Linked DNA regions of Homo sapiens. The protein of the gene in region 1 purifies or fractionates together with the protein of each later gene. This does not show direct contact. Each region holds a gene or a part of one and is shown in the gene's direction. Other genes may lie near its edges.

Region 1 (3,216 bases):
CTCTCCCTCGAGAAGTGGGAGGCGGGCATGGCTGTACATCACCACCGTTTCCTCAGGAGGCTAGGGCAGAGATCTCAGAACGGTCAGGCAGGTCACCTCAAGAAGCTTCCTCCACGAAGTCATCTATAGCACCAGAAGAGCAAAGCAAAAAGGGGCCTTCAGTTCAAAAAAGGAAAAAGACATAACAGGTCTTCTTCATATGTTCTTTCCTTTACCCGGTTGCAAAGTCTACCTCATGCAAGTATAGGGGAACAGTATTTCACAAGCAGTAGCTGACCTGGGATTTTAACTACTATTGGGGAACTGTGAATTTTTTAAACAGACAAATCACTCTAAGCAAATTACATTTGAGCAGGGTGTCATGTTTTATGTTAATTCAGAGAATAAGATACTATGTCTGTCAATATGTGCATGTGTGAGAGGGAGAGAGCCTGAGTCTGTGTGTGTACATGAGGATTTTTATATAGGAATGTAGACACATATATAAAGAGGCTTTGTCTTTATATATTTGTGTATAGATCAAAGCACACACCCTCTCTCATATAATTGGATATTTCCAAGAATTGAAAACCCATGTGAAGCATTATAGATAGTTTTAAATTTAACCCACTGGAGTTTTCTTGAAATACCACTTCTTTTATATTATATAAAACTAAAAACACGACTGTTACCTTTTGTGTGAACCAAAGGATACTTCAGATCTCAGAGCTGCCAATTATGGGGTACTAAAGGTTTTTAAGACATCCAGTTCTCCCGAATTTGGGATTGCCTCTTTTTCTTGAAATCTCTGGAGTAGTAATTTTTTTCCCCCTTTTTTGAAGGCAGTACCTTAACTTCATATGCCTCTGACTGCCATAAGCTTTTTTGATTCTGGGATAACATAACTCCAGAAAAGACAATGAATGTGTAATTTGGGCCGATATTTCACTGTTTTAAATTCTGTGTTTAATTGTAAAATTAGATGCCTATTAAGAGAAATGAAGGGGAGGATCATCTTAGTGGCTTGTTTTCAGTAGTATTTTAATATCAGCTTCTTGTAACCTTTTCCATGTTGTGAGGGTTGTAAGGGATTGTGTGGCAACAGCAGCTTCCCTTGGCTAACTCAATCTTCTACCCATTGCTTAGAGCAGGGAGCCCTCCTTATTTACTACTGAAGACCTTAGAGAACTCCAATTGTTTGGCATATATTTTTGGTGGTGGTTTTTATTCCTCCTGGAGAGTTATCTAATTTGTTTCTAAAACAAACAAGCAGCAAAGAAATGAATTAAATACTGGGGTTGAGAATTAAAATTAAGTGGATGTTCACAGTTGCCCAATATATATGACCTGCAAATGATACGAAAAAGTGCAGCATTTAGTGGCAGTTAACAAGAGTGACAAGCCTGGGGCAGAGGTACCAAACCTCTCCCACCAGAGAGCTAGAAGTATTTTATACAGTAACTTTGATCTTATGGAAGTGACCTTCAATGCTTATTCTGAAGTAACCTATATGGTGGATACAGGATGAACATTCAGTGCCAGGGAGAATCTTCTCAGGTTGGTTCTCGTTAGAGTGATAAACTGGCTAGGGGCCATAGTATTGGTCCTGTTAGGTTTCGGTCATGGAAAAAAAAATTATTTTGGGGTCATCCTGGCTCTAGATGTTATGGGCAAATTTCTGAAACATCTGCAAGAAGGTACCAGTTAATTATAGTGCTTAATATTGGGAATAAGATTAAGCATTATAATTATAATGTATGGGCCTGTTGGTGTAAGCTCAGATAATTAAATAAAAATAGCATGACTCAAATGAGACATATTCTGCTGAACAGTTTCTACTTCCTCTCCCGCCTGTCCTGTCATGGGAGACGTGTATAGTTGCTGCTGTTTCAGCAAACCACCATAAGACGAAAATGCCTCAGGTTGGGTTGCCAGTCCTTTACAACTCAGCTTGAATTTCACAACAGTGATTGTGAGAATCTGCGTGGTATACACTGAAATATCGGTGTGCTGTGATGCAAAGCTTACCTTTGACGATATTGAATGTGATATAGCTGTAGAGAAGTACTTCCTTGCCTTATGTGAGGATTTCAAACTTATTTAAATTATGTAGACAAATCAAAGTGGCATTGCTTAATTTTTAGCAGGCATAATAAGCAAGTTAACAGTAAAATGCAAAACATGATAAGCGTTGCTCAATTTTTAGCAGGTATAATAAGCAGGTTAACAGTAAAAATGCAAAACATGATAGATAAGTCACTTTGAAAATTCAAACCAAAGTTCCTTCACCTTATGGAAATAGGAAATTATGGACTTCAAAATTGGACACTTCCTGTTTACAAAAAGAAATTCAGAGCTAAAATCATGGTAAAAAAAAATAGAAACACTTGAGAACTATGGTCTTTATGGGTGCAATTTGAAATCCTTTTCATCATCTTACCAGACTAAACTAAGAGCACATACCAAACCTATCTTATGGTTGAAAGTTGGGGTTTATTTTTTATATGAGAATATTATCACTATTACATAACATACTCAGGACAAAGAACTTTGCTCAGGGAACATACCATGTAATATTTTTGTTGTTTCTTTACAGACTAGTCTACAGTCCTGCTTACTCAAAACAAACCAAATAACTTATACCTTTATATAAGTATTATGTACTGATGATAGTAACTACCTCTGAGTTTGACACAGATCAAAATTTTTGAATATCAGATATCAGTTATCCTATTTTTATTTCATGTGAAAACTCCTCTAAAGCAGATTCCCTCAACTCTGTGCATATGTGAATATCACTGATGTGAACACATTGTTCATTTACATAGGTAAAATATTACTCTGTTTACAGCAAAAGGCTACCTCATAGTTGATACATAGCACACCTGTATGTATGCTGTTCCAGCCTTACAGGTGGCTGATAATTCTCTGGTACAGAACCTTTTTATCTGTATTATAAATAGCAATTCACAACTGCATGTTTCTGACAAACACTTGTGAATAATGAAGCATCTCGTTTTAGTTAGCAAAGTCTCCAAACATTTCCTTAAAATAATCATGTATTTAGTTTAAAGAATTATGGGCACTGTTCAACTTAAGCAAAACAGAACACGGAAGCAGTCTTAGAAGCACCACTTTGCCCAGAGGTGGAGGTTGGAAGGGGTAGCAGGGAGAGGGGTTGGTGTATGCAGGTATTCATGCTAGGCAAAGAGTTTAAAAGACGCCAATGTCCTTCAT
Region 2 (4,353 bases), on another chromosome or scaffold:
AACTTTTTGAACTGACTGAATTAACTTGGTATTTTTAAGTTGACTTTTTACATAAACTTTATAAACCTTTTATAAAAAGGAAACTATACCATTACTATAAATGGAAAATCATTTTACACATCATACCTAGCAGGTAATAAAATTTAAAAAATAAAAATTAAATATTAGAATGTGAGAAATTTATTAAAATATAGTTCTAAAAATAAGTTTCTTCCTGAGAAGAATGATACTGTTTATGATGAATCCATAGTGAAAAGACAGTGACCTCTCTTTCATCCAGTCTAGTATATCACTAAATCATCATTACGATGTTTGGCTATCAAGTCATTAATTACTGTCCTCCTTTCACTGAGCTTTATTCAAATTTTGACAATCAGAGCACTGGGAAGAAATAAATTCCACAACTGCCTTTAGCCTTCTGGATACTTTCTTTTATAAAATAGAAACCTTTTCCACACCAGTTCTGCAGCAGTCGCTATTAGATGCTCGTGGTAGAACCCATCAATCATCTGGTCCTCTGGGTACTGGTGAGCATCCCTGGTCTTCATACCTGTGAGTGGGCTTTGTGGTGAATTACTGTAAATATGCTACCCTCACTTTTCTTGGCAGTTATGTCGATGAAATCAAGAGTGTGATGTTCTAGTTATTTTTTTTTATATATATTTTTAAATGTTCAATATTCAACTATTGAAACAAATGTACATCTGTGAACTAGCTAAAATCATCTTATGTACCACTAATATGCCCAGCACATTTTGTAAAACAGTCCTGATTTGGCCTCCAAGGGTATTTATTGAACTACCAGCAGTATCTAGGAGACCACGAAGGAATACCACGAAGGAATTTATGCTCCAGTGCTTGCCATAATTTGTCTGAGAAGGAATCTGTTAAATAAAAGCTTTTATCCTCTAACCTTTACCTTCATCAGACCTTATAAAAGGTCAAATGGTGATTCTTAAGTTTTTTAGTCACAAATCTTACTTATTCAGTATTAGTGCGAAGAGTAGAATACTTTCAAGTAAGCCTAAACTTACATGAAAACAAATTACATAAATCTAGCTCTGAGAATAGGAAATTAGTGACAAGATCAATCTGTAAGATGTTGAGCACTTATCTGAAGTAAATGGGTAATGAGTTTCACATCTTATAAATACAAGTTAGCATGTGTTTTCTCAAGAGTCCAAGGGTTTTCATTATTGGACTACAGCTTTAATCTTCTAAATGTTATTCCCCAAGATTAAAGAGCATCTCAAGTTAGATCACCAAAGATCAAAAGCTAAAACCAGAAGTATTTTTGTCATTGTGGTGGTGGTAGTGTTACTAATTGCCTAGATTTTTAAAGGGAAACATTTTTTTCACTGGGTTGTTTCGTTGAAAAAAATAGAAGCAGAAACTTGCCCAAAGTCACAGTGGTCAAACTGGAAATTGCACCAAAACTTGGCATACTGGTTCTGAAATCCATAGTTTTAGCCCTTATGTATACTGGTTAATTTGGAAGGAAGAAATATATACGTTCTGAAGTGAAGAGTGAGTGAAAGGAAGAATTCAGTGAATACATTGATACCTTGATATTATCTGCATTGTGGCTACATGTTACTTTTCTTCACAAGAGTGATATAAGTGAAATAAAGAATGATTGGACTGGGAGAAAAATGGCTCAGAAAACTTTGCAAAAGTACGACTGTATGTAAAGATAAGTATTCAACATTAAATGGGAAGGAGGAGAGCAAGCAGTTTAATATATAGAATTTTATAATTTTAGGCCTGCAAGGGACCTTATAAAACATGAGCAATGGAACACTTTTTTCCAAACTAAATTTCGTGCAGTGGAACTTGGCCGACTCTGTCCTTCCTCTATTCTAAGCACCCTACTCTAGCCCGGCTGCTCTGAGTTCAGTTTGTTACAAATATGGACACGAAAGTACCACAGGCTTTGCACAGCTTAATTGAAGTTTCCCCTTCACACCATGGTAAAAAAACATACTGGGATGGAAGGGTTTGTGTCTAGAACAAGAACAAGAAATAAACTCTTGGTCACTTACTAATATTTCAAAATCACAAAGCAGAATTTTGCTTGGATGTTTAGTAAAACATCCTTGGAAATTTAACTGCTTGCAGCTTCTACACTTCTTCATTAAATGCTGTCTGGCTAATAAAAAGTGCCATGTTGCAGCTTTATTTTATTTTCATTTTTTGGAGATAGACCCTCACTGTGTCACCCAGGCTGGAGTGCAGTGGTACAATCTCTGCTCACTGCAACCTCCACCTCCTGGGCTCAAGTGATTGTCCTGCCTCAGCCTCCTGAGTAGCTGGGGTTACGGGCGTCCACCACCACACCCAGCTAGTTTTTGTATTTTTAGTAGAGGGGGTTTTTGCCATGTTGGCCAGGCTGGGCATGGTGGCATGGTAATCTCAGCTACTTGGGAGGCTGAGGCAGGAGGATCGCCTGAACCCGTGAGATGGAGGTTGCAGTGAGCTGAGATCACACCACTGCACTCTAGCATGGGTGACAGAGCAAGACTCTGTCTCAAAAAAAAAAAACAAAAAAAAAAACGAAAACAGAATTCTGTTTGTTTGGATGACCTGTTATACTTATTTTTGATCTTGCTGAAATAAGCAAATCTTAGGAATCTTAGTCTACAGTTTCTGACAGTTTTTTTTGTTGTTGTTGTTTGACCAATTAGAACTAAATAAAAAGAACGTGATTTTCACATTTAAATTTCTCTTAAATGTATTCCTAGAACAGTAAGCCATTGGTTTAATTGCTACTTGATGCCAGTTTCCTTGAAGATAGCCGTTAAGATAAAACATGGTTTCATTGTTAATTCTGTAGAAAGTTACATGTTACTATTATGTTATTCTATTGGTGTATTGTTCCTTTTACTCACCACAGAGATTGTCCAAACACTTGTCATTATTGGGGCAGGCACTGCAGGTGGCTCCTCTCTTATATGGCCAAGTTGGGTAATTCCCTCTGTAAAGCAGAAGAAGGATGTCCATTAGAAGTTTTTCGGTTTTTTAAAATTGCAATTTACTATGAATCCTTAACTAAATCCAGAAGAATAGTGGAGTGAAGTACAAAGGTCCAGAGAGTTGGTAATAGAAGTGAAGACAGGAAGGCAGAAATGGAAGGCTGCTAATATTTGCATAGTTCATTCTATGTACCTGTGTCTATGCACCTGTTTTAATCTGCATCCCATTTAATTGTGACAGCTCTGAGAGGAAGTTATTCTTGTTTTACAGATGAGACAAAAGATGTAAGAGATACCTTTAATCACAATTTATACACTTCAGAGTCAGAGGAAACCTGGATTTAACTCCAGGGCTGTGCTCCCTCTCTTTACCTACCCTCTGGCCTATATGATTACTGCCATTTAAAAAACTGTCCATCTTAGAAAAGCTATGGTGACCCACATTCAATATTCTCAGTTGGTCAGCCCTCCATAATTTTCACTGGATAGGAGCCATTTGGCTGGTGCCTTCCAAAAAAATAATAAATAATGGTATGGGGGAATTTCTAAAGTACAAATTGTTTTCACATACAAGATGTGATATGAATAATAGCTGCTAATTAGTGAGCACTACCATGTGCTTGTCTTTGTTCTAAACAACCTTGAATGAAATAATCTTCACAAAAACCCTATGAGGAAGTTACTGTTGTCTATTTATACCCATTATATAGCTAGAGGCTGAGTCACAGAGTATAAGTAATTGACCAAGGTCACAGACTAGAAAGTGAAATAATATCCAAGCATTTTATATCCCCATAAATATCCTCATAGTAGTAATGGGGAGAGGGGGCACATTTATCTCAATGAACCTGCCATTGCACTAATTTTTTTTGGAACTCTGCTTTTGGAAAAAGTTCTAAACTTTTTTGTGTAATCGTACCCTTTGGCAGTCTGGTGAGGCCTATGGGCTCTTTCTCAACATAGTTTGTTGTTAAATGCATAAAATACATAGGATTATAAAGGAAACCAATTAAATTGAAATAGTTATCAAAATGTTTAAAACAAGATTTGTGATAAAGTAATATGTGCTTCTCTATTAAGATCTACCGGGGGCTATTAGTTTCAATGCAGTGATGAACACAAACTATATTTTGAGTTCTCTGCAGCAAGTGGAATGTGGTATGAAAATATCTGATATTTACAAAGATGATACTGCTAAGTCAGAGTCACGTTTATTGCTAATATGATGGTGGAGTGTTGTCTTCATTCATAATGAAAGGAAATGTTATTTTTAATAGAGGTTAGTGAAAATAAAAATAAAACTATTTTCTAATCAAAGTTTATGGTCCTCCTCTCCCCAGCACTCTACAATTACCTCCAAAGTTGAGAACTCTCACCTTAG
Region 3 (4,353 bases), on another chromosome or scaffold:
TTGTTAAAGTGTATCAATTTTTAAATCACAATATTTCTGTTTTCTTCATTGCATATTAACCAAATTTTGGCCATTCATAAGTATGCTATAAAACTAAAGTGATCACTGCTATTCACGAATTATTATAGAATCTTCTTTGCAGATTTTGTGATATATTAAGAAAAGCTGATTTTAATATTAATATTTAAGAAGTTATTTGATCCTGAAAACCTAAATTTAAGGTATAGGCCATTTGACACGTCCTTTTTGAACAGAAATTTCATTACAGGCTAAGTGAAAATAAGCCAGAATTAGCATGAGTCAGGTAGAATTTCATGATAAAAGAACAACCAGATGAAATAAGAAATAATGATTGGTTTCAAGCCAATGAATCTGCTAAGCTAACTACCAAGTTTTGATGTTGAATGGTCCAGGCAATTTATGTCTTTAGGAAAGCTGAGTGTGGCAAAGGTCACTTGTTAACATTTTTCTTAACAAGAATGTCATAACTACTCATTCATTTTTATTTTGTCCCCACGTTTGGTATTTGTTTTGTTTTGTGTTTTTCCTTCCTGATGTCCTTTGCTTTTGTGGAAGATTGTCCTGTTGATAGGCAGAAACATGGTGGTGATCCTCTATGTAAAATATAGTTGCTTCTTACACATCAGAAGTATTTCACTCATTTTGGAATCACAGGATTTTCATGTTTTCATAAATACACACATTGTTTTGATAATTATTAGCAATTAGCTTATTTTGTAGCATTAGATGGAAAAATGTTTAAGCTAAAGAGTTTAATTTTCTTGATTTTGGTTCCACTTTAATAATTCAAGAGGCCTCCAAGTTCAAGGACCAAGTCCTTCTATTTTAGAATTGTGAAAAACATGGAAATACTCTTGTTAGTGTGTGTTTTGGTCTAAGGTAGATTATTAACACAGAAGGATCCTAGGAGGATTTAAGAAAATATGTCCTTATCGTGAAGTGGCAGTTAAAGTTATGGGACAGGTGAATTACCTATTCATCTTGACTAGCTCAAACAATGATAGCCATCAGCTAATGACTTATCAGACACATGTTGAGTTTGGGTCAAACTCCCATTCAGCTGGAGTGGATTGGCAATTTTAAATGCAGGTAGTTGGTGGTGGTACTTGACCTACCTCCTTACCATGTACATCTGGCATCTTCTCTCTCCTATCCTTTTTCTTTGTTTCTCTCTCCACTTTTACTCTTGCTGTAGGCCTACCAGTGGCACTCAAGCTTACTTCTTCAGAGAGAAGTAAAGAAATTTCTGACTCCTGCCTTAGAACATAGCTAACTGATGATCCAGAACAATTTCAGTATTATGAGGTAACTGGGCAGTTTTTTTCTGATTGCTATTTTCCCCATAGTCTTAAGCTGGCAGTTTGAAGGTATCTAAATTAATGTTAAGAAACTTGTGAACTGAAGAGAGTAAGAAGTATGTGTATTTTAGGTAAGTTACTGGGAACTGAGACTTACTGGTTTGGAAATTGGAGAGTAGGACGAGGAGAGCTGTTTAATGTGTTTGTGGATGGGGGTTTGAGAGGTATATAGAGAATGGTTTGGAAATAAAGTGAGAGGAATTTTTACTAGAGGTAGGAAAAGGTACTATGATGGAGTCCGAATGAGAGTTATTTGCTAAGGAAATGAAGTTGATCTTCACTAAGGAAGTTTCAATAAAGCCAGAGAAAATGGGTCCCTCATTGATTATGAGAAAGCTGTTAGTTACTATAGCTAGAGTTATGATAATGATCATGCATTATACAAGTCTGTTTTCATGTATAGGATGTCTGCTTTTCTGGGACAAATTAGCACAATTGTGGAATGACAGCTTTTCTGGTCAAGGCAAGTGGATGCTGGGGAGTTATTATTTTGAGGAAAAGAAAATTTCAAGCTTTTCACCATTATTCTTTTTAAACTATCAGAAATATTTATCACACATACTATCTATTTTCTTGGGCTCTTGTTACAATGTAGTTTACCTTTACTTTTCAAATGGTCCTTAGATCAAATTATTTGATTTTGTACTCCACAAAGACACATATTATTCCTTGCTTTTATAGAATTTTGAGACTTTGGCCCACACAAATTTCTTAGAAGACAATAAACCAGGTAAAAACACTAACTTGCAATTTTAGGTGTCTTTTTTATTTCTTTTACATTTGCATCCGTAGCAACCATTTAACCTTGTAGACCTTATGAGGCCCTCAATAATACTGTATTTCTAAAATTAGACAACATACCCCCCAAACTCATGTTTCTGTTTCCCTACTTTCTCTCTTACTTTAAAATTGTAGTATTCCCAAGAGTTCAGTGGTGGCAAATGTTAATAAAATAAGTTAGTACATTTTGGAGGTTCTTATATCCTTTGTAGGGTAAGCTGATAGTGTTTAGATTTCTGTTCCCATTATTCCAGTAGTGTTTTAAATTATTTAAGATAAATAATTACTGTAATGTTTGTTTTTAAGTTACATAATTCAAGTATGTTTGGATTAACTCTTTGTTGTCAAATTTAGTATGGATTTATTCCTGGTGATTTGGACAGATTACTTTGAAGTTTCATTTTACTCACATCTCTATATATTAGTGATAAAAATCTCTTTTAAAAATAGCAAAAAAGTGGTTCTGATTTTGTACTTTGAAGGTAATTTTTCTTTTTTACGAATGTCAGGTTCATTAACAATAGCAGGATTATTTTTACTATAGCTTATTTTGTAGAGTTGGCACTTTAGTATAATTTTCACATTTTATTGTGTCAGATTTTAAATTATAATAGTTATATACTATAACTCATTTAAGTCAATGCAAAGCCTTCTTAAATAGCCCCTCCCTTAGAAATTTGTTTAAAAAGAAGTGAATTCCCAAACCTGTGTCAAGAACTTGTGATTTAAATGACTGTGAGACAAGTCCTTGAAAGGCTTAAGTCTAGTCAGTGGAGATAAATGATAGCCCATTTCCATGCTGCATATAGTTGTTAGGGTTTATAAAGTTGTCAATGTGTAAAAGTGCAAAAGCAGGAAAGACTAAAGTTGCCTGTAAAATTTCTAGTTTTCATTATTTGCACTATTTATCTTTGCACTTGATTTTTTGAAAGTTAAGGCTAGTCACTTTCACTTTTGTTTCTAGTCTTTTCTAATTTCTTGCAGAATTGTGTTTTCAATATTCCACCCAAAGCAAAAATTATATGCAATTAAAAATATTTTATAAGGCCAAGAAAATATTTCTTAATGTTAGCTGTATAAAACAAAAATTTGTTCTGATAAAATTTTTAATATGGGCCTTTATTTGCCAATAAAATCCTTTGTAAATGTGAGCTTTATTAAACTGTTTAAATAGACAAAGTTAAAGCTTAGGATAGGGAATATATATGTATGTGTATATGAAATGATGTCTTCGAGTTTTAACTTCCAGCCTGAGATGGCCTAGATTTGGTGTGTTAGTTTGTTTCACTGAAGTCAGTGAGATAGGAGTCTAGCTGGGTACATGCTTAAAAAGCTGGAAGTGAAGTGGGTGGCAAGTGGCAGCTCCCTCTTTCATGTAGTTTTCCATAATGTTCATATAGTTTCCTTATGGTCTAAGTGTTACAACTGGTTTTCAAGTTGTTATATTGAATATTCCTTTTTGGAATTCAGGGTTGAATCACTTTGAGGGGGAAGGGAAGCAAGGGCAAGAGACTTTATTTTAACCAGATGCGGTCTTATGACCTCAAAGATGTGCTCTAGAAAGAAAATAACAAAAAGTGTACCTGTGAACATATTTTTTGTCTTGGTGATATTATGCAACACAGTGTTCAGAATTGCAAAAAAATTTAAAAATTGATAGTTTTATCAATGGAACAGAGAGATGTGTTTTTGGCTAAAATTATTTTTTGTAAGTTATTTGGTTATTTCATTTTATATTCCCTTTCCCATAGCTTTGTACACACCTCATACTTAAAACCAAGTGAGAGGCCTCTTTTCAGATCTGGTTTATTTTTGGAATGCCTGAGTGTGTTTCCAGATTGGGGGGGGAGAGGTGGTGTTTTACTTTTTGACATGCTCTTAGCATGTTTTGCTAGTCATTCTGGATCTTATGTTTGCAAATTCTGTTGAACATTCAGTGATGTATTTGAAATGAGAAAGTCCTTTATAACATAGTGTGAATGTTTGTGGCCAATTCAATTGTGGAATCTTATGGCTTTGTTTTTACTTTGGGTAGAAGTTTAACTTCCATTGTTCAGATTTTAGGTTTATCTAGTGAAATTGTGCCAGGTAGTTGTCTAAATATGGACCAATTTTGGGAAATGAAGATTAATAAGTGTATATTTGATTCTAGATAATCCTTTACTCAAAATCATAAGTTAAAGATTCACATCAT
Region 4 (4,353 bases), on another chromosome or scaffold:
TTGGGGAAGCATTGGTGTAGAGAGCCTTAAAGTTTTACAAAAGAAAATATTTAAAGGATAGATGTTCAGCTGCTTAAAATGAAGGAACTTGTTTCACATGGCTTCATCATAAGGTGTTCATCCGTGTCAGAAGACACGTGTTCTTAACAAGTCCTTTTTTTTTTTTTTTTGGGAAATTTTTTTTTTTTATATTATGAGCTATTAAAAAAACTAGGTTCTCCTTAGGGAAAAAAATACATGCAAATGCTCACAAACTTTTAAATTCACACTTTAGCGGGGTGGTGATTTCTGAAGGCCCTTTCTGTAACCCTGGTGTCTTTCAGGAAACCCAGGTGGAGATCCCATGTTTAAATTACTTTCCGTTTCAAGAGCACTTCTTAGATTCTTTAAAAAAGGACATCTTAAATTTTACATTACTGTTACAAAAATTAGCCAGGCATGGTGGTACATGCCTATAGTCCCAGCTACTCGGGAGGCTGAGGTGGGAAGATGGCTTGAGCCTGGGAGGCAGAGGTTGCAGTAAGCTAAGATCACACTACTGCACTGCAGCCTGGCCGACAGAACCAGACCTTATCTCAAAAATAAATAAAAAACAAACTTTACCTTGTTAATGCTATCTACTGAGAAGACACAATGATTTAGGAATTTTTAAATTTAAGCTTGTAAGTTTTATTTTCTAAAAAATAAATTTTTTTCAGCTTTTTCTAAGAGTGTCAACCGGCTTATTTTGTCAATATGTCTATTTATTTTTAAACAGAGGATTTTTCTCCAACAATTATAGAAGATCAGGCTCGTGAACATATTCGGCAAAACCTAGAAAGTTTCATAAGACAGGACTTTCCAGGTAAATGATTTATTTTTTATTTTTAAGAAAAGTAGTGTAACCTTTTTTCCAAATCAGTTCATGTGTTACAAGCACACTGATTTTGAGAATCAGGATTTCCATTGTTTTGCAATATACCCAGGATGGTCCTTGGTCTGCCAAATCCTCATTTACCAACAGAAACAGTGTAGGGTTTATTCTAGCAAGTGCCATAAGTGAATTTCATTTAATACTATGTTTAGAGTCAAAGTTAAGCTTACATTATTAAATGTGTTGAGGTGATCTAACATTTTCCTTGAAATGTCTTTGCATTTAAGAATAAAGGAGCACCTGGTAATCTTTCTTGCCATATACAGCTTGTATGTAAAGGAAGCTTTGAGAGAAAAAGACTTTAGCATAAATGACCAGTTAATCAGAGAACATAAGTATGAGATTAATATAGGATAATTAAACAACTGGGTGTTTTTGATTCATGAGAGGGCCATTTTGATCAAAAATTAAATGTACTCAGGTAATTAGTTATTACTTTTCATATATCCCTAACAGGAACTAAATTGAGCCTGTTTGGCTCCTCCAAAAATGGATTTGGGTTCAAACAGAGTGACCTTGACGTCTGTATGACAATTAATGGACTTGAAACTGCTGAGGTACAGTGACCACATAAAACTTCCATTTGCTGTGGCAGTGTGATTTAACCAATCTAGACTGGCATTACAGCTTGGTATTTTCCAAATTTATCAGGGCATACCATATAGAGTGTGCTGTTTGGCACAGTCTCTGGCCAAATACATTAAGAGGCTTGGAAAGGTTGTGAGGAATGTGAGGAGCAGAAAGGTTATACTTTCACTCTGTAGCAAAAAGTGGATTGGAAAGTGTTGCCTGGGAATTCTACATAGCCAAACCAGCCTCTTCAGTGTCCCATTGGCTTGGCTACTATGCTGACTTGGATCACACACTCACATAAGGTTACCTGTAAAGTTTGTTACCAGACAGGCAGTGTGGTAAATCATAAGAGTACTAACCTTAGAGTCCAGAGGCCTGGATTTGAGACAAACTTGTTTCATCAGTACCTAAACATGTGGTCTTTGGTAAATAATCGATAAAGTATAATATCTGTTCCTCCTGCCTCCGCTGATTTTTGTACACATTATCATGGATCATGTGGGTCAGGAGTTAGCAAACGATGGCCCTTGGGCAATTCAGCCCCCCACTGCCTGTTTTTGTAAATAAAGTTTTATTGGGACAGAATCACACCCATTCACATATGTAATGTCTATGGCTGCCTTCACTCTTAAGTACAGAGTTTAGTAGTTGTAAGAGACCATATGGCGTGCAAAGCAAAACAAACTTGCCAGCCCCTGGGATATCTGAAGGCATTTATAAAATATAAAACACTATATAAAGGTATAAAGTCTAGGAAGTGCTGAGTCCCTATTCTTTTAAATCCTTAACAGCAGTCCAAATGCTAAATATCCAAATGAATGATGCTGCTGTTGCTGAAGACCTTTTTGTACCTTTTCTTAGTTTCAAGTCTTTCTATTTTGAGGATGTATCTGATTTGGGAAAATAGTCAAAAGTGATCTAGCCTGAATTTGAATAAAGTATATAAGCAAGATTGGCTCAACATATGGAATGACCCTATCATACATCCTCAAGGTTTATTTATTTATTTATTTTTTTACATGGCTTATAAACTAGTTTTGAGGGCATTTCTAAAGTAACATTCCACGTATGTTCTGGGATTTTTATAACCATCAAAAAGGCGTATGTTGAGTCAGCCCAAATGTTTTTAAGAATGATTTATCAAATACTATTTATATTTGCTGTATGACTTTAGTTATATGCATTATAATTCTGGCTAGTCCTATAGGGAAATAATTTGAGCTTAATCACTCTCCACAGCAATTCATCAACTCTTAAACTATAGAAGGTCTGCTTAGAATGAATGAGCTGGGGCACAGAAGCCTCCTCTCATTTATTCTGGGACATGGGGTACATCCGAGTGATATTATGTGGAGGGGAAGAAATGAAGGTCCTCAACCATGGTTCAGAGACTTTTTTGGAAGCCCTAGGTCCATAAGCTTCCTGACTGATTTTAGCCTTTGTTGCACACCCAAAAACAATTAGGAAGTAGGGTATTTAGTGGTTTTTGTACCGTCAGGATATTTCCTGTGAATACTGACTCTAATACCCAACTAGAAAGGAAAAAAATAGATATAGACTGACTTGAAATTAATTACATTATTTCTGAAGGTAATGGAAACTATAGCCAGTTTCAGAACCTGTCTTCCAGTTTTGGTTAAGTTCTTTATGCCTTCTTTGTTGTAGGGATTGGACTGTGTCAGAACTATTGAAGAATTAGCAAGAGTCCTCAGAAAACATTCAGGTACCTCTGTAAACTTTTTCTAAAAATATTTCTGACTTTTTAATTAGTGTTTTCTATAGTCTTCCCTTGGTATCCATGGGGTATTTGTTCCAGGCCCACCCATCACCCCTCAACCCTCCCTTCCCCAGCAGATAAAAAAAATCCTTAGATGCTCAAGTTCCTTATATAAAATGGCATAGTATTTACATATAACCTATATGCATCCTTCCATATAGTTTTAGTCATCTCTAGGTTACTTATAATACCTAATACAGTGTAAATACTATGTAAATAGTTGTTATACTGTATTTTTTATTTGTATTTTTTTATTGTTGTATCGTTAGTTTTTTATTAGTTGCTTTTTTCTCTTAAATATTTTTGGTTTGTGTTTGATTGGATATGGGGATGCAGGACCCACAGACATGAAAGGCCAATTGTATTTAGAGTTTATTAATGCCATGAAGCAGTATAGTGGCTCATTCATAGAATAATTGCAATATTAATGTCTTTTTAAAATCTTGTATGCGTAAGTATGAAAGACTGAGGAATTGGTGATAATTTATATGCATATTGTTGCCTAGCTCAGTTTTATTTCAAGACAAAGCCTACGCCAGACAGGCAAGAAAGGCTATAAATCCTTTTCCTTTGTTGGCGTTGTATAAGTCAAAGTGTAGGAGTTGCTAATTGTGTGAAGTGTCAAGGAAAGCACCCCGGACTGGGCTTGTGGGTTGAATTTGCAGCTGTTCTGCTCAACAAGCTGTATATGACCCTGAACAAGTCCTTCACTTGAAGCGATCTCTTTTTTTAAGAAATGGGATCTTGCTAGGTTGTCCAGGCTAGTCTCTGAACTCCTGGGCTCAAGTGCCTTGGCCTCCCAAAGCACTGGGATTACAGGTGTGAGCCACTACGCTTGGCCTGATCTCTTTTTTTCATTGATAAATTGAGGCAACTGGACTGGATAATTATTCTAGAGTATTTACAGCTATAAAATGTATAGATTTTGTAAACCATGCACAGAATTGAAATGCTGTTAACGTATCCTTTTGTTGTCATGGCAGCTATGGATACCATTAACAGTGAAAAATCTTCTTTTAAAATGTAGTTCAGCAAACTTCTGTGCTAAGAGCTGAAAATGAAAGTGAACAATATATGGCCCCTATCCTCA
Region 5 (4,353 bases), on another chromosome or scaffold:
CAGGTCACAGCCCAGCCACCGCATCTGCTCCTCTGAAGGGGGCCAGCCCCTCCACACCTGTGGGCGTTTCTCGTCAGGTGGGACGAGAGACTGAGAAAAGAAATAAGACACAGAGACAAAGTATAGAGAAAGAACAGTGGTCCCCTGGGACCGGTGCTCAGCATACGCTCAGCATCCCGCATACGGAGGACCTGCGCATACGGAGGACCTGCGCTGCGCAGGCACTGGTCTCTTGAGTTCCCTCAGTATTTATTGATCACTATCTCTACCATCTCGGAGAGGGGGATGTGGCAGGACGATAGGGTAATGGGGAGAGGGTCAGCAGGAAAATATGTGAGCAAAGGTCTCTGTGTCATAAATAAGTTTAAGGAAGGGTGCTGTGCTTTGATGTGCACCTACACAACATCTCGTGCATCAAAGAGCAGTATTGTCTCCAGCAGGTCCCACCTCCAGCCCTGAGGCGGTTTTCGCCTATCTCAGTAAATAGAACACACAATCTGGTTTTACACCCAAGACATTCCATTCCCAGGGACGAGCAGGAGACAGATGCCTTCCTCTTATCTCAACTGCAAAGAGGCCTTCCTCTTTCACTAACCCTCCTCAGCACAGACCCTTTATGGGCGTCGGGCTGGGGGACAGGCTGGGAGACAGTCAGGTCTTTCCCTTCCCACGAGGCCATATCTCAGGCTATCACATGGGGAGAAACCTTGGACAATACCTGGCTTTCCTGGGCAGAGGTCCCTGCGGCCTTCCGCAGTGTATTGTGTCCCTGGGTACTCGAGATTGGAGAATGGCGATGACTTTTATCAAGCCTACTGCCTTCAAGCACTTTTTTAACAAAGCACACCCTGCACAGCCCTAAATCCATTAAACCTTGAGTCAACACAGCTCATGTCTCTGCAAGCACAGGGTTGGGGCTAGGGTTACAGTTTAACAGCATCTCAAGGCAGAAGAATTTCTCTTAGTACAGAACAAAATGGAGTTTCTTGTGTCTACTTCTTTCTACATAGACACAGTAACAGTCTGATCTCTCTTTCTTTTTCCTACAGTCCTTTTTTTTTGGAGACAGAGTCTCGCTCTGTCGCCCAGGCTGGAGTGCAGTGGTGCGACCTCGGCTCACTGGAACCTCCGCCTCCTGGGCTCGAGCAGTTCTCATACCTCAGCCTCCCGAGTAGCTGGGACTACAGGCGCACATGCCACCATGCCTGGCTCATTTTGTTTGTATTTTTAGTAGAGACAGCATTTCACCATGTTGGCCAGGCTGGTCTCTTGACCTCAAGTGGTCCACCCGCCTTGGCCTCCCAAAGTGCTAGAATTACAGGCGTGAGCCACCGCACCCAGCCCATTACATCTATTTTAAAAAACTATTATTTTTGGCCAGGTGCGGTGGCTCACACCTGTAATCCCACCATTTTGGGAGCCCAAAGTGGGCGGATCACGAGGTCAAGAGATTGAGACCATCCTGGCCAACATGGTGAAACCCTGTCTCTACTAAAAATACAAAATTTAGCTGGGCGTGGTGGCACGTACCTGTAGTCCCAGCTACTCAGGAGGCTGAGGCAAGGGAATCACTTGAACCCAGGAAGTGGAGGGAGGTCGTAGTGAGCCGAGATCACGCCACTGCACTCTAGCCTGGCGACAGAGTAAGACTCCATCTCAAAAAAAAAGAAAAAAAACTAATATTTTTATTGTTTTTATTTATTTTATTTTATTTATTTATTTTTTTGAGACGGGAGTTTTGGCTCTGTCACCCTGGCTGGAGTGCAGTGGTGCGACCTCGGCTCAATGCAACCTCCACCTCCCAGGTTCAAGCAATTCTCCTGCCTCAGCCTCCCGAGTAGCTGGGATTAAAGGCGCCCACCACCATGCCTGGCTAATTTTTTTGTGTTTTTTGTAGAAGACGGGGTTTCGCCATGTTGGCCAGGCTGGTCTCGAACTCCTGACCTCAGGTGATCTGCCCACCTCAGCCTTCCAAAGTGCTGGGATTATAGGCGTGAGCCACGGCACCCAGCCTTGTTACTGTTTTTGGTGACTCACCTGCAGTGTGTCTCCCTTCTTGAGTGTAAGCTCAGTAAGGATAGGCTGTGCCCGCTCTGCTAACCCCAGGGCTGCTGCTGGGCAGGTAGTGAGTTGTCAGTGCACCTCTGTGGAGTGCAGCAATACACGCAGAGCTTACATCATCCTCAAAGTAGGGACTGCCCTCTTTGCTTTTCAGATAAGGAAACTGAGGCACAGAGAGATGAAGGGACATGTCCAAGGCCACCCCACTTGAATGCACCGGGGCTGGGATTTGAGCCCCAGATGGCCTGACTCTAGCAGGGTTCTTTCTGCCGCTGAGCTGCCTATCGCCTGCCTTTGTCCAGATGGCCCTTCTCTGGCCAATAGCGAGTGCTAGGCTTCACCACGGATTGTCAACCCTGAGCACATGCCTTAGTCCCCTGGAGGCTCAGTAAGCTGAGTGTCACTCAGCTCCGGGGCTTGTGACTTACCAGATCAGGTGGCCCTGAGAATGTGCATTGTGCCACTGGTTCGGGGCCACCCCTAGAGCACTGCAGTGCATCCTCCCACTTGCCACAGGCATGCCTGGTTTCAAGGTGATGGTGTCATCCCCATTTTCGCGAGGAAGTGCTAACTTGCCCGGGAGCCCTCAGGTAGTAAGCACTACAGGCCCTTTCCCCTTGACGGGGTGGCCTGAAGGTGGGGACATCAGGAAGACCTTGCTGCCAGGACCCCAGGCCTGGAGTGGGCTGACAAGTGCCCAGGGCAGGGTAGCTCCTGTTTGGTACATCTGGGTGTGTGGGCTCAGTTTTCAGAGTCCCTTCAATGTGTCTGAGTTTGGAGAGCTGGGCTCTGATGTGTCCATGGCTCTGCCTTAGAGCCTGGCCTGGTGGATGCAGTGACGGGGTCCTCTCCAGCCTCAGCCTCCTCTGGGGCAGCTGCTCACCTGTGCGTCCAGCTGATCCCGGGCCACCACTGAGCTTCTTCCATCTCCACAGATGAAAAAGCGGGACCTGGAGCCCTCGGACGCCACCTACACGGCCCTGTTCAACGTCTGTGCCGAGTCCCCCTGGAAGGACTCAGCTCTACAGAGCGCCCTGAAGCTCCGGCAGCAGCTGCAGGCCAAAAACTTCGAGCTCAACTTGAAAACATACCACGCGCTGCTGAAGATGGCTGCCAAGTGCGCAGACCTTAGGATGTGCCTCGATGTGTTCAAGGTGGGGCTTCCCCTGCCGTCCTGCTCCCCTTCATGGGGCTGGTCCCACGTGTCAGGGGCAGGGCTGTGGTGTCTGTCTCTCCTCATGTAGGAAGGCTTAGGGAGGATGAGACAGCCGGTATTGGGCCCTGGGGTTCACAGATGGATCTGATGAGACCTTACTGGAGATTGTGTATGCCACCGTGTGCTGTGTCCTGCTTTGTGCACTCGAGGGAAGGCTTCCTAGAGACAGGGTCTTGCTATGTTGCCCAGGCTGGTCACAAAACTCCTGGCCTCAAGTGATCATCCTGCCTTGGCCTCCCAATGTGCCAGGATTACAGACATGAGCTACCATGCCCAGCCTGCTGCAGGTTCTCAGTGGGACGTCTTTGTTCCCTCCCCCAGGAAATCATCCACAAAGGGCACGTGGTCACAGAGGAGACCTTCAGTTTCCTGCTCATGGGCTGCATCCAAGACAAGAAGACAGGCTTCCGGTACGCCCTCCAGGTATGTCCCTCCCACCCCACCTTCCTGCCCTGCTTCCCCGGTGCCAGAGGTGCAAAATGGTGATCCTGTGAGCACCCACGATGGCCCTGTGCTGAGTATTTTTATATCTGTGCTCTTTTCTGAAAACCCAGCAGCCACTGTAGCCTCCATTCTACAGATGGCAGGGAGAGGAGGCCCTTGGAGATGGAATGAGGGTGGCCCCCGCCCCTCCCACCCTGCTTTGCAGTCGGCTTAGCCCCTCTAAACTCACCTTCCTTGAAAGCCTGCCACACACTCACCTGGGGACTTGTTCAACCCTCCCACACCCCCATTAGCACTTCTGCAGGTGCAACCCAGGAGTCATTCATTCATTCATTCATTCATTTATTTTGAGATGGAGTCTCACTCTTGCCCAGGCTGGAGTGAGCGATCTTGGCTCACTGCAACCTCCGCCTCCCAGGTTCACGCGATACTCCTGCCTCAGCCTCCCGAGTAGTTGAGATTACAGGCGCCCGCCACCACGCCCAGCTAATTTTGTATTTTTAGTAGAGACGGGGTTTCACCATGTTGACCAGGCTGGTCTTGAACTCCTGGCCTCATGTGATCTGCCCGCCTGGGCCTCCCAAAGTGCTGGGATTACAGGTGTGAACCACAGCTCCCCGCTGGAGAGCTTT
Region 6 (4,353 bases), on another chromosome or scaffold:
GATAAGTCTGAATACTGTAATAACATCACAAGGGAGTAGATCAATATTGTGCTTTGGACATGGGGAGAAAAAAAACCCAGTTAGGATTAATAGCATTGGCTAAGGAAACAGCCTGTGAACATAAATTACAGAAGTCAAAACAGAAGTTAGCAACAAAAGAAATTATAATAATCATGAATGCACTGCCATCCCTATTTGTGTCATTGTTAAAGTACTTCAATTTTCATTCAGTTGAACACAGAGTTACAGATTTCATCAATATTTTAGTACTGTAGTGATAAAACTTTATATTCCAGTGAGCTAATGCAGATTTACTGAATATTGGGAAGATGCAAGTTCAAATTTACTTTCTTATTTTATTTTATTTTTTGAGACACAGTCTGGCTCTCTTGCCCAGGCTGGAGTACAGTGGCGCGATCTCAGCTCACTGTATCCTCCACCTCCCAGGCTCAAGCCATCCCCCACCTCAGCCTTCTGAGTAGCTGGGATTGCAGGTGCGTGCCACCGCGCTTGGCTAATTTTTTGTGTTTTTAGTAGAGATGGAGTTTTACCATGTTGCCCAGGCTGGTTTTGAACTTGTGAGCTCAAGGAATCTGCCCACCTCGGTCTCCCAAAGTACTGGGATTACAGGTGTGAGCCACTATGTCCAGCCCCCAAATTTACTTTCTTTTTTTTTTTGTTTTTTTTCTTTTCGTTTGTTTGTTTGTTTGTTTGTTTTGAGATGTAGTTTTGCTCTTGTTGCCCAGGCTGGAGTCCAATGGCGCAATCTTGGCTCACCACAACCTCTGCCTCCCGGGTTCAAGCGATTCTCCTGCCTCAGCCTCCCAAGTAGCTGGGATTACAGGCATGCGCCACCACCCCGGCTAATTTTGTATTTTTAATAGAGACAGGGTTTCTCCATGTTGAGCAGGCTGGTCTCAAACTCCTGACCTCAGGTGATCTGCCGGCCTCGGCCTCCCAAAGTGCTGGGATTACAGGCGTGAGGCACCACGCCCGGCCTCCAAATTTACTTTCTTTGGATACATTATTTCCTTGAATTCAGTGCTTTCTACGTGCCAGGCACTGTTCTAGAGGAGGGAGCTTATGTTGTGGTTGGGGGAAAGGAAGACAGTCTATAAACAATAAATATAACTTCAAGTATGTTAAAAAGTGATACATTGACCAGATGCACCTGTAATCCCAGCACTTTGGGGGGCCAAGGAGGGTAGATTGCTTGAGTACAGGAGTTCGAGACCAGCCTGGGCAACATGGTGAAATCCTGTTCTACAAAAAATATGTATACATATATTAGCCAGGCTTGGTGGCACATGTGTTTAGTCCCAACTACCTAGGAGGCTGAGGTGGGAGGATCACTTGAACCTGGGAGGTCAAGGCTGCAGTGAACTGTAATCGTGCCACTGCGCTCCAGCTTGGGTGACAGAGCGAGACCCTGTCTCGAAAAAAAAAAAAAAGTGATACATCCTATGGGAAAAGAAAGAAATCAGATGGAGCTATAGGGAATAGTAGCAGAGAGGAGGACGTTGCAGTTAAACTAGAGTGGTCTGGGTAGATGTTATTAAGAAGGTGCAATTTGAACAAAGACTTGAGGTGAAGCAATGAATACTGCAGGAAGAATAGACCAAGCAGAAGTAACAGCTATTGTAGAAGTGAAGGGTGCCCAGCAAGGCCAGAACTAGCATGAAGTGAGCAGTTTACTTGCTTTAGGTTCAAAATTTGACAGTGCCTTAAAAACTCAATAATCAAAATAAATAATATTTGAATGTACCAGTTCAAAAATCAAAATTAATGCAAAAAATCCATAATGGACAAAATTTTAAAGATAGGCTCTTACCCTGTACTTGGCAAGACTGCTCTCTCCACCCTAATCTCTACCTAGTTCCTGTCTCAACAAGGGGCCAATGTGGCAGGAGCAGAGTGCATGAGAGAGTGAGTAGGATATAAGGTCAGAGAGATAATTGGGCCAGGTCTAGTGGGAACTTGTTTGCCATCTTAAGGAATTTTCCTTTTACTTTAAATGAAATGGCCCATAGAGGGTTTTGAACAGATAAGAAATGCATTTCCTAGGCCGGGCGTGGTGGCTCACACCTGTAATCCCACCACTTTGGGAGACCGAGGTGGGCGGATCACCTGAGGTCAGGAGTTGAGACCAGCCTGACTAATGTGGAGAAACCCCATCTCTATTAAAAATACACAAAAATTAGCCAGGTATGGTGGTGTATGCCTGTAATCCCAGCTACTCAGGAGGCTGAGGCAGGAGAATCGTTTGAACCCGGGAGGTGGAGGTTGCCATGAGCCGGGATTGCGCCATTGGACTCCAGCCTGGGCAACAAGAGCGAAACTCGGTCTCAAAAAAGAAAAAGAAATGCATTTCCTTTCCGCTGCTGTTTTGAGAATAGACTGAACTGGGGAATAAGATTAGATGCAGGAAAAGCCTTTCCAATGGGTCTGACCAGCATGGTAGCAGTGGGGTGAAGGAAAAGTGGTCAGATTCTGGGTATATGTGGAAGATACGGCCAACAGAATTTCCTAGTGGATTAGATGGAGGATGTAAGAAAAGGAAGAGTCAAAGATGACTCCAAGGTTTTTAGCCAGTTTGAAGAGCAATATCCAAAAATTCACATTGGCTTCAAAGTCTCAAAAGTCTATTTAACATGAACATGGAAGGGTATGTATAATGGATTGTTTAATGAAAAGACAGATTAGAAACCAATTGGCCAGGCGCAGTGCCTCATGCCTGTAATCCCAGCATTTTGGGAGGCTGAGACGGGCATATCACCTGAGGTCAGGCGTTCGAGACCAGCCTGTCCAACATGGTGAAACCCCGTCTCTGCTAAAAATACAAAAATTAGCCGGGTGTGGTGGCATGTGCCTGTAATCACAGGTGCTCGGGAGGCTGAGGCAGGAGAATTGCTTGAACCTGGGAGGTGGAGGTTGCAGTGAGCAGAGATTGTGCCACTGCACTCCATCCTGGGCAACAAGAACATGACTCTGTCTCAAAAATAAATAAACAAGCCAATTTATATGACAGAATCCCATTTGGGGTTGGAGTTACAAATATATGTGGCATATAAAAAAGTAAAAAGATGTCCAGGTGTGGTGGCTCACACGTGTGTAATCCTGAGACCAGCCTGGGTGACATGGTGAAACCTTATCTCTACCAAAAAAATACAAAAATTAGCTGTATGTTGTGGCACATGCTTGTAGTCCCAGCTACTTGGGAGGCTAAGGAGGTGGGAGGATCCCTTGAGCCCAGAAGGTCGAGCTGCAGTGAGGCATGATCACACCACCTCACTTCAGCCTGGGTGAAGAGCGAGACTGTGTCAGAAAAAAGTAAAAAGATTATATGTGTCAAAATGTTACAGTGATTACCTATGGTTAGTAGGATCATGGGTGGTTTTTTTCTTTTCTTTTTCTTTCTTTCTTTTTTTTTTTCCTTTTTGATACAGGGTCTCACTCTGTCATCCAGGCTGGAGTACAGTGGCACAATCGCAGGTCACTGCAGCCTCGACCTCCCTGGCTCAAGCAGTCCTTCCACTTCAGTCTCCCAAGTAGCTGGGACTATAGGCTTAAGCCACAATGCCCAGCTAATTTTTGTATTTTTTGTAGAGACAGGGTTTCACCATGTTGCCCAGGCTGGTCTCAAACTCCTGGGCACTCAAGCAATCCATCTGCCTCTAGGATTACAGGTGTGAGCCATTGTACCCCGCCTATTTTTTCTTTTAACCGCATGTTTTTGCTACTTTTTCTGCAATTAACATATATTTGAGACAGTCTTGCTCTGTCACCCAGGGTGGAGTACAGTGTTGCCATCTCAGCTCACTGCAACCTCTGCCTCCCAGATTCAAACAATTCTCCTGCCCTCAGCCTTCTGAGTAACTGGGATTACAGGCATATCCCACCATGTCCAGCTAATTTTGTATTTTTATTAGAAACAGGGTTTCACCATGTTGGCCAGGCTGGTCTCAAACTCCTGACCTCAAGTGATCCACCCGTCTCGGCCTCCCAAAGTGTTGGGTATAATACCCAACACCCAACCCGTGAGTCACCGCACCCGGCCACAAGTGTGTATATGTACCTATTTCCTTATTTTTAAAAATTCAGTTATTTGAATAGGCAACCAGTTCACATGGTAAAACAAGAAAGAGTATCAAGGGCTAAAGGGAGGAGGCTAAGGGAAATTTATGTGTACAGAGTTTCAGATTTGCAAGATGAAACAGTTTTGGAGATCTGTTTTATAACCGTGTAAATATACTTTACTACTGAACTGTACACTTAAAAATTGTGAAGATGACAAAATTTTTTTGTCATGTCTTTATTATCACAATAAAAAATCAGTAAAAGAGTGTGTAGTGA
Region 7 (4,353 bases), on another chromosome or scaffold:
AACATGGAGAAACCCCATCTCTACTAAAAATATAAAAATTAGCCGGGCGCGGTGGTGGGCACCTGTAATCCCAGCTGCTTGGGAGGCTGAGACATGAGAACAGCTTGAACCCGGGAGGCAGAGGTTGCAGTGAGCCGAGATCATGCCATTGCACTCCAGCCTGGGCAACAGAATGAGACTCCACCTCAAAAAAAAATAAGTAAATAAATAATAACAACAATAATAATAATCAAAGCAGGAATTACTGACTGAATGACCCCAACCCCACCAGATGGTGACAAGCACAATACTCTTGGACAGCTGGGAATTGGTGGATTTGGGATTTGAATCCTCTGTCTAACCCTGGCCCTGCCCTGTGGGATTCTCTGCCACGGCAAAGAAGGGGGTTGTGGGTGATGGCAGGTGTCTTTGGTGGGTTAACAGCATCGTCATCAGACAGTGAGGAGGACCCAGAAGCCTTGGAGAAGCAGAAGAAAGTGCGGCCCATGTACCTGAAGGACTACGAGAGGAAGGTTATCTTGGAGAAGGCAGGGTATGGAGAAGGCCTACATCCCCACCCCCTGGTTCCCAGCCCTGTCAGGTCTATGGGGGTCTTAGGGGCAGGAGAGGGAAAAAAGCTGGCAGCCTGGGCCGGGCATGGTGGCTCATGCCCATAATCCCAGCACTTTGGTAGGCTGAGGCAATAGGATCGCTTGAGGACAGAAGTTTGAGACCAGGCTGGGCAACATACCCCGCCTCTACAAAAAAATTAAAAATTAGCTGGGCATGATGATGTGTACCTGTAGTCCCAGCTACTCAGGAGGCTGAGGCAGGAGGATTGAGCCAGGAGATGGAGGCTGCAGTGAGCTATGATCAGGCCACTGCACTCCAGCCTGGGCAACAGAATAAGACCCTGTCTCAAAAAGAAAAAAGGCCGGGCATGGTGGCTCATGCCTGTAATACCAGCACCTTGGGAGGCTGAGGCGGGCAGATCACCTGAGGTCAAGAGTTTGAGACCACCCTGGCCAACATGGTGAAACCCCGTCTCTACTAAAAATACAAAAATTAGCCAGATGTGGTGGTGGGCGCCTGTAGTCCCAGCTACGTGGGGAGGCTGAGGCAGGAGAATCGCTTGAATCTGGGAGGTGGAGGTTGCAGTTTTCCGAGATCATGCCACTGCCCTCCAGCCTGAGGGATAGAGCGAGACCCTGGCTCCAAAAAAGAAATGCTGTCACCCATGATTGGAAAAGAAAAAAAAAAAAAAAACGCTGGAAACTCACCAGAATCGCAGATAGCCCTGAGAGCAGGAGTCTCAGTGATTCCATAGCCCTCCGATGACCCCCGCCAGCTGTTGCTTGGAATAGCTGCTCCGCATGGGCATGGGGACAGGCGGGCCCTGGAAGATATATTCTGAAGACCCCACTTTTCCTTTACAGCAAATATGTTGATGAGGAGAACTCAGACGGGGAGACTTCCAATCACAGACTCCAGGTGGGTGGGGTGAAGGCTGGGTCGGGGGGCTGAGGGGCCTGGGGCTGGCCTGAGACCTATGGCCCTCTCTGCAGGAGACATCGTCGCAAAGTTATGTGGAGGAACAGAAACAGCTCAAGGAAAGGTGAGGCTGGGTGGGCGGGAATGGCCCAATGGAGGAAAGTTGAGGCTCGGGGGTTGGATAGGCACGGGTTCAAATTGAGCTCTGTCACTTTCTATGTGCTTCAGTTTCCTCATCAGTTAAACGGGGTTAATAACATCACAGCACTGCTCTGAGCTTGTTGAGAGGAGAGCTCAGGGCTTAGTAAATGGGGTTAATCTTGGGGCAGCCAGCCAGGTGAGGTGGCTCATGCCTGTAATCTCAGGGCTTTGGTGGGCAGAGGAGGGAGGATCACTTGAGCCCAGGAGTTCAAGATCAGCCTGGGCAACATAGTGAGACCCCAGCTCTACAAAATAAAATAAATACTGGGGCAGCAGACAGGGGCCAGCCTGCCTGTCCTGAGGCTTGTTTTCTCTCGTGGGCAGCTTCCGGGCATTTGTGGAGGACAGTGAGGACGAGGACGGCGCTGGGGAGGGCGGCTCCAGTTTGCTGCAGAAACGTGCCAAAACCAGGCAGGAGAAGGTGGGTACTGGGGCCTGACTGGACTGCTGGGGGACAGGGTGGCGGGTGGCTGGGCATCTGCGGATGCTCAGTGCTAGCTTTCCCCCAGGCCCAGGAGGAGGCCGACTACATCGAGTGGCTGAAGGGACAGAAAGAGATTCGGAACCCAGATTCCCTGAAGGAACTGGTGAGTTCTCACGCATGGTCGCTGATGGAGTAGACCGCGTGTTCCGCGTCCATCCAACCTATTTACAGAAAGTAACCCTCTGAAGATGGGATATGTACATCTCTGGGCCTCAGCTCCTACATCTCTTTAAATGGGGATAGGCTGGGTGCCGTGGTTCACACCTGTAATCCCAGTGCTTTGGGTGGTCAAGGCAGGAGGATTGCTTGAGGCCAGGAGTTTGAGACTGGCCTGGGCAACATAGCAAAATGGCTCTACAAAAAAATGAAAAAATTAGCCAGGCATGGTGGCATGCACCTGTAGTCTCAAATACTTGGGAGGCTAAGGTGGGAGGATCTTGTGAGCCCGGGAGGTTGGGTCTGCAGTGAGCTATGATCACACGACTGTACTGTCACCTGGATGGCAGAGTAAGACCCTGTCTCGAAATAAAAATAAGAAACCAAAATGGGGCTAATGTCACCTACTCCAGAGGCTGGCTGTGAGGTCCATGTGGTGAGCATGCCTGCCCTCCTTCCCTGTCCTCCATTGACCAGAGTCCTGTCTCCTGTCACCCCCAGACGCATCTCAAGGAATACTGGAACGACCCTGAGTTGGATGAAGGGGAGCGGTTCCTGCGGGATTACATCCTCAACAAACGCTATGAGGAGGAGGAAGAGGAGGAGGAAGATGAAGAGGAAATGGAGGAAGAGGAGGGGTGAGCCACTGCATCTCCCCAGGACCTAGATTTTGGGTGCGCTTCATGAAGTATTCCCAGGCGGCACTGGCCAGGAGGCAGAGGGCACCATGTGTGTATTTTTTTCACAGATGGTGGCAGAGTTAGTCTTCTGTAAGGCAGAGCCACAGAGTATAGGCTCTGGAGCCAGGTGGCACTGCCTCAAATCCTGGTTCGGCTTCAAGACTTTCATGCCTCAGTTTCCCCATCTGTAAAATGAGGACAATAGCAGCGTGCACCTTGTAGGGTTCTTGTGAGGATTAAATGAGTTCATACGCTTCGTACCCAGGCGTGCAGGAAAGGGGGGCTCGACCTCACTTGGCTGGCCCCCTGGCATCACCACATCTTGCCCCTCAGGGTCCACGGTCCCCCAGTCCAGCTGGCTGTGGACGACTCCTCAGACGAAGGGGAGCTGTTTCTGAAGAAACAGGAGGACTTTGAACAGAAGTACAATTTCCGTTTCGAGGAGCCGGACTCAGCATCGGTGTGTGGCTGGGGCTGGGGAGGACTCAGCCCCCAGGGTTCAGGCCCAGGGAACCCCACATCATCTCTGCGGCCCTTGTGGGCTTTTCTGATTGCGCCTAGGTCAAGACCTACCCACGCAGCATCGCGTCCTCCGTGCGCCGTAAGGATGAGCGCAGAAAGGAGAAGAGGGAAGAGACTCGGGAGCGAAAGAAGAGGGTGAGTGTGGGGGGTGAGCTGGGGAGGACCCCCCAGCCCTGGAGGAAAGCCCATGCCCTCCCCCTCTCTGCCTGGGCCTGCAGGAGAAAGCAAAGAAGCAGGAAGAGCTCAAGCAGCTGAAGAACCTGAAGAGGAAGGAGATTCTGGCCAAGCTGGAGAAGCTGCGGAAAGTAACAGGCAACGAGATGCTGGGCCTCGAGGAGGGGGACCTTGAAGACGACTTCGACCCTGCCCAGCACGACCAGCTCATGCAGGTGCGGCCCTCATCCCGGCCCAACATGACGCTGAGTTCACACAAACATGGCTCTCACTGGCCACGGTGGCTCACGCCTGTAATCCCAGCACTTTGGGAGGCTAAGGCAGGCAGATCACCTGAGGTCAGGAGTTCGAGATCAGCCTGGCCAACATGGTAAAACCTCATCTCTACTAAAAATACAAAAATTAGCCAGGTGTGGTGGTGTATGCTTGTAATCTCAGCTACTTGAGAGGCTGAGGCAGGAGAATTGCTTGAACCCGGGAGGCAGAGGTTGCAGTAAGCCGAGATCATGCCACTGCATTCCAGCCTGGGCGACAGAGGGAGCCTCTGTTTTAAAAAAAAAAAAAGACCTGGCCGGGTGCAGTGGCTCACACCTGTAATCCCAGCACTTTGGGAGGCCGAGGCAGGCGGATCACGAGGTCAGGAGATTGAGACCATCCTGGCCAACA

Evidence for each region.
Region 2: the proteins of LIN28B (region 1) and KRR1 purify together in Homo sapiens (affinity purification with mass spectrometry; 2 studies listed by BioGRID and IntAct, with this or other methods). This does not show direct contact.
Region 3: the proteins of LIN28B (region 1) and PURA purify together in Homo sapiens (affinity purification with mass spectrometry; 2 studies listed by BioGRID and IntAct, with this or other methods). This does not show direct contact.
Region 4: the proteins of LIN28B (region 1) and TUT7 purify together in Homo sapiens (co-immunoprecipitation; 2 studies listed by BioGRID and IntAct, with this or other methods). This does not show direct contact.
Region 5: the proteins of LIN28B (region 1) and PTCD1 purify together in Homo sapiens (affinity purification with mass spectrometry; 2 studies listed by BioGRID and IntAct, with this or other methods). This does not show direct contact.
Region 6: the proteins of LIN28B (region 1) and PHAX purify together in Homo sapiens (affinity purification with mass spectrometry; 2 studies listed by BioGRID and IntAct, with this or other methods). This does not show direct contact.
Region 7: the proteins of LIN28B (region 1) and KRI1 purify together in Homo sapiens (co-immunoprecipitation; 2 studies listed by BioGRID and IntAct, with this or other methods). This does not show direct contact.

The regions. Positions count from the first base shown.
Region 1 is NC_000006.12:105,078,599-105,081,814, forward strand, and holds part of LIN28B (protein lin-28 homolog B), read left to right. Parts: coding exon 1-185; 3' UTR 186-3,216. UniProt on the Homo sapiens protein: Suppressor of microRNA (miRNA) biogenesis, including that of let-7 and possibly of miR107, miR-143 and miR-200c.
Region 2 is NC_000012.12:75,494,198-75,498,550, reverse strand, and holds part of KRR1 (KRR1 small subunit processome component homolog), read left to right. Parts: 3' UTR 1-2,888; coding exon of another isoform or gene 2,889-2,974; 3' UTR 2,975-4,353. Other genes in the region: GLIPR1 (glioma pathogenesis-related protein 1 precursor), read right to left, coding at 2,889-2,974. UniProt on the Homo sapiens protein: Part of the small subunit (SSU) processome, first precursor of the small eukaryotic ribosomal subunit.
Region 3 is NC_000005.10:140,120,358-140,124,710, forward strand, and holds part of PURA (transcriptional activator protein Pur-alpha), read left to right. Parts: 3' UTR 1-4,353. UniProt on the Homo sapiens protein: This is a probable transcription activator that specifically binds the purine-rich single strand of the PUR element located upstream of the MYC gene. May play a role in the initiation of DNA replication and in recombination.
Region 4 is NC_000009.12:86,316,075-86,320,427, reverse strand, and holds part of TUT7 (terminal uridylyltransferase 7), read left to right. Parts: intron 1-757; coding exon 758-844; intron 845-1,369; coding exon 1,370-1,470; intron 1,471-3,151; coding exon 3,152-3,209; intron 3,210-4,353. UniProt on the Homo sapiens protein: Uridylyltransferase that mediates the terminal uridylation of mRNAs with short (less than 25 nucleotides) poly(A) tails, hence facilitating global mRNA decay. Essential for both oocyte maturation and fertility.
Region 5 is NC_000007.14:99,428,450-99,432,802, reverse strand, and holds part of PTCD1 (pentatricopeptide repeat-containing protein 1, mitochondrial), read left to right. Parts: intron 1-2,996; coding exon 2,997-3,215; intron 3,216-3,598; coding exon 3,599-3,700; intron 3,701-4,353. Other genes in the region: ATP5MF-PTCD1 (ATP5J2-PTCD1 fusion protein), read left to right, coding at 2,997-3,215, 3,599-3,700. UniProt on the Homo sapiens protein: Mitochondrial protein implicated in negative regulation of leucine tRNA levels, as well as negative regulation of mitochondria-encoded proteins and COX activity. Also affects the 3'-processing of mitochondrial tRNAs.
Region 6 is NC_000005.10:126,610,355-126,614,707, forward strand, and holds part of PHAX (phosphorylated adapter RNA export protein), read left to right. Parts: intron 1-4,353. UniProt on the Homo sapiens protein: A phosphoprotein adapter involved in the XPO1-mediated U snRNA export from the nucleus.
Region 7 is NC_000019.10:10,558,908-10,563,260, reverse strand, and holds part of KRI1 (protein KRI1 homolog), read left to right. Parts: intron 1-423; coding exon 424-532; intron 533-1,415; coding exon 1,416-1,470; intron 1,471-1,544; coding exon 1,545-1,594; intron 1,595-1,995; coding exon 1,996-2,092; intron 2,093-2,180; coding exon 2,181-2,258; intron 2,259-2,812; coding exon 2,813-2,949; intron 2,950-3,324; coding exon 3,325-3,451; intron 3,452-3,552; coding exon 3,553-3,648; intron 3,649-3,731; coding exon 3,732-3,902; intron 3,903-4,353.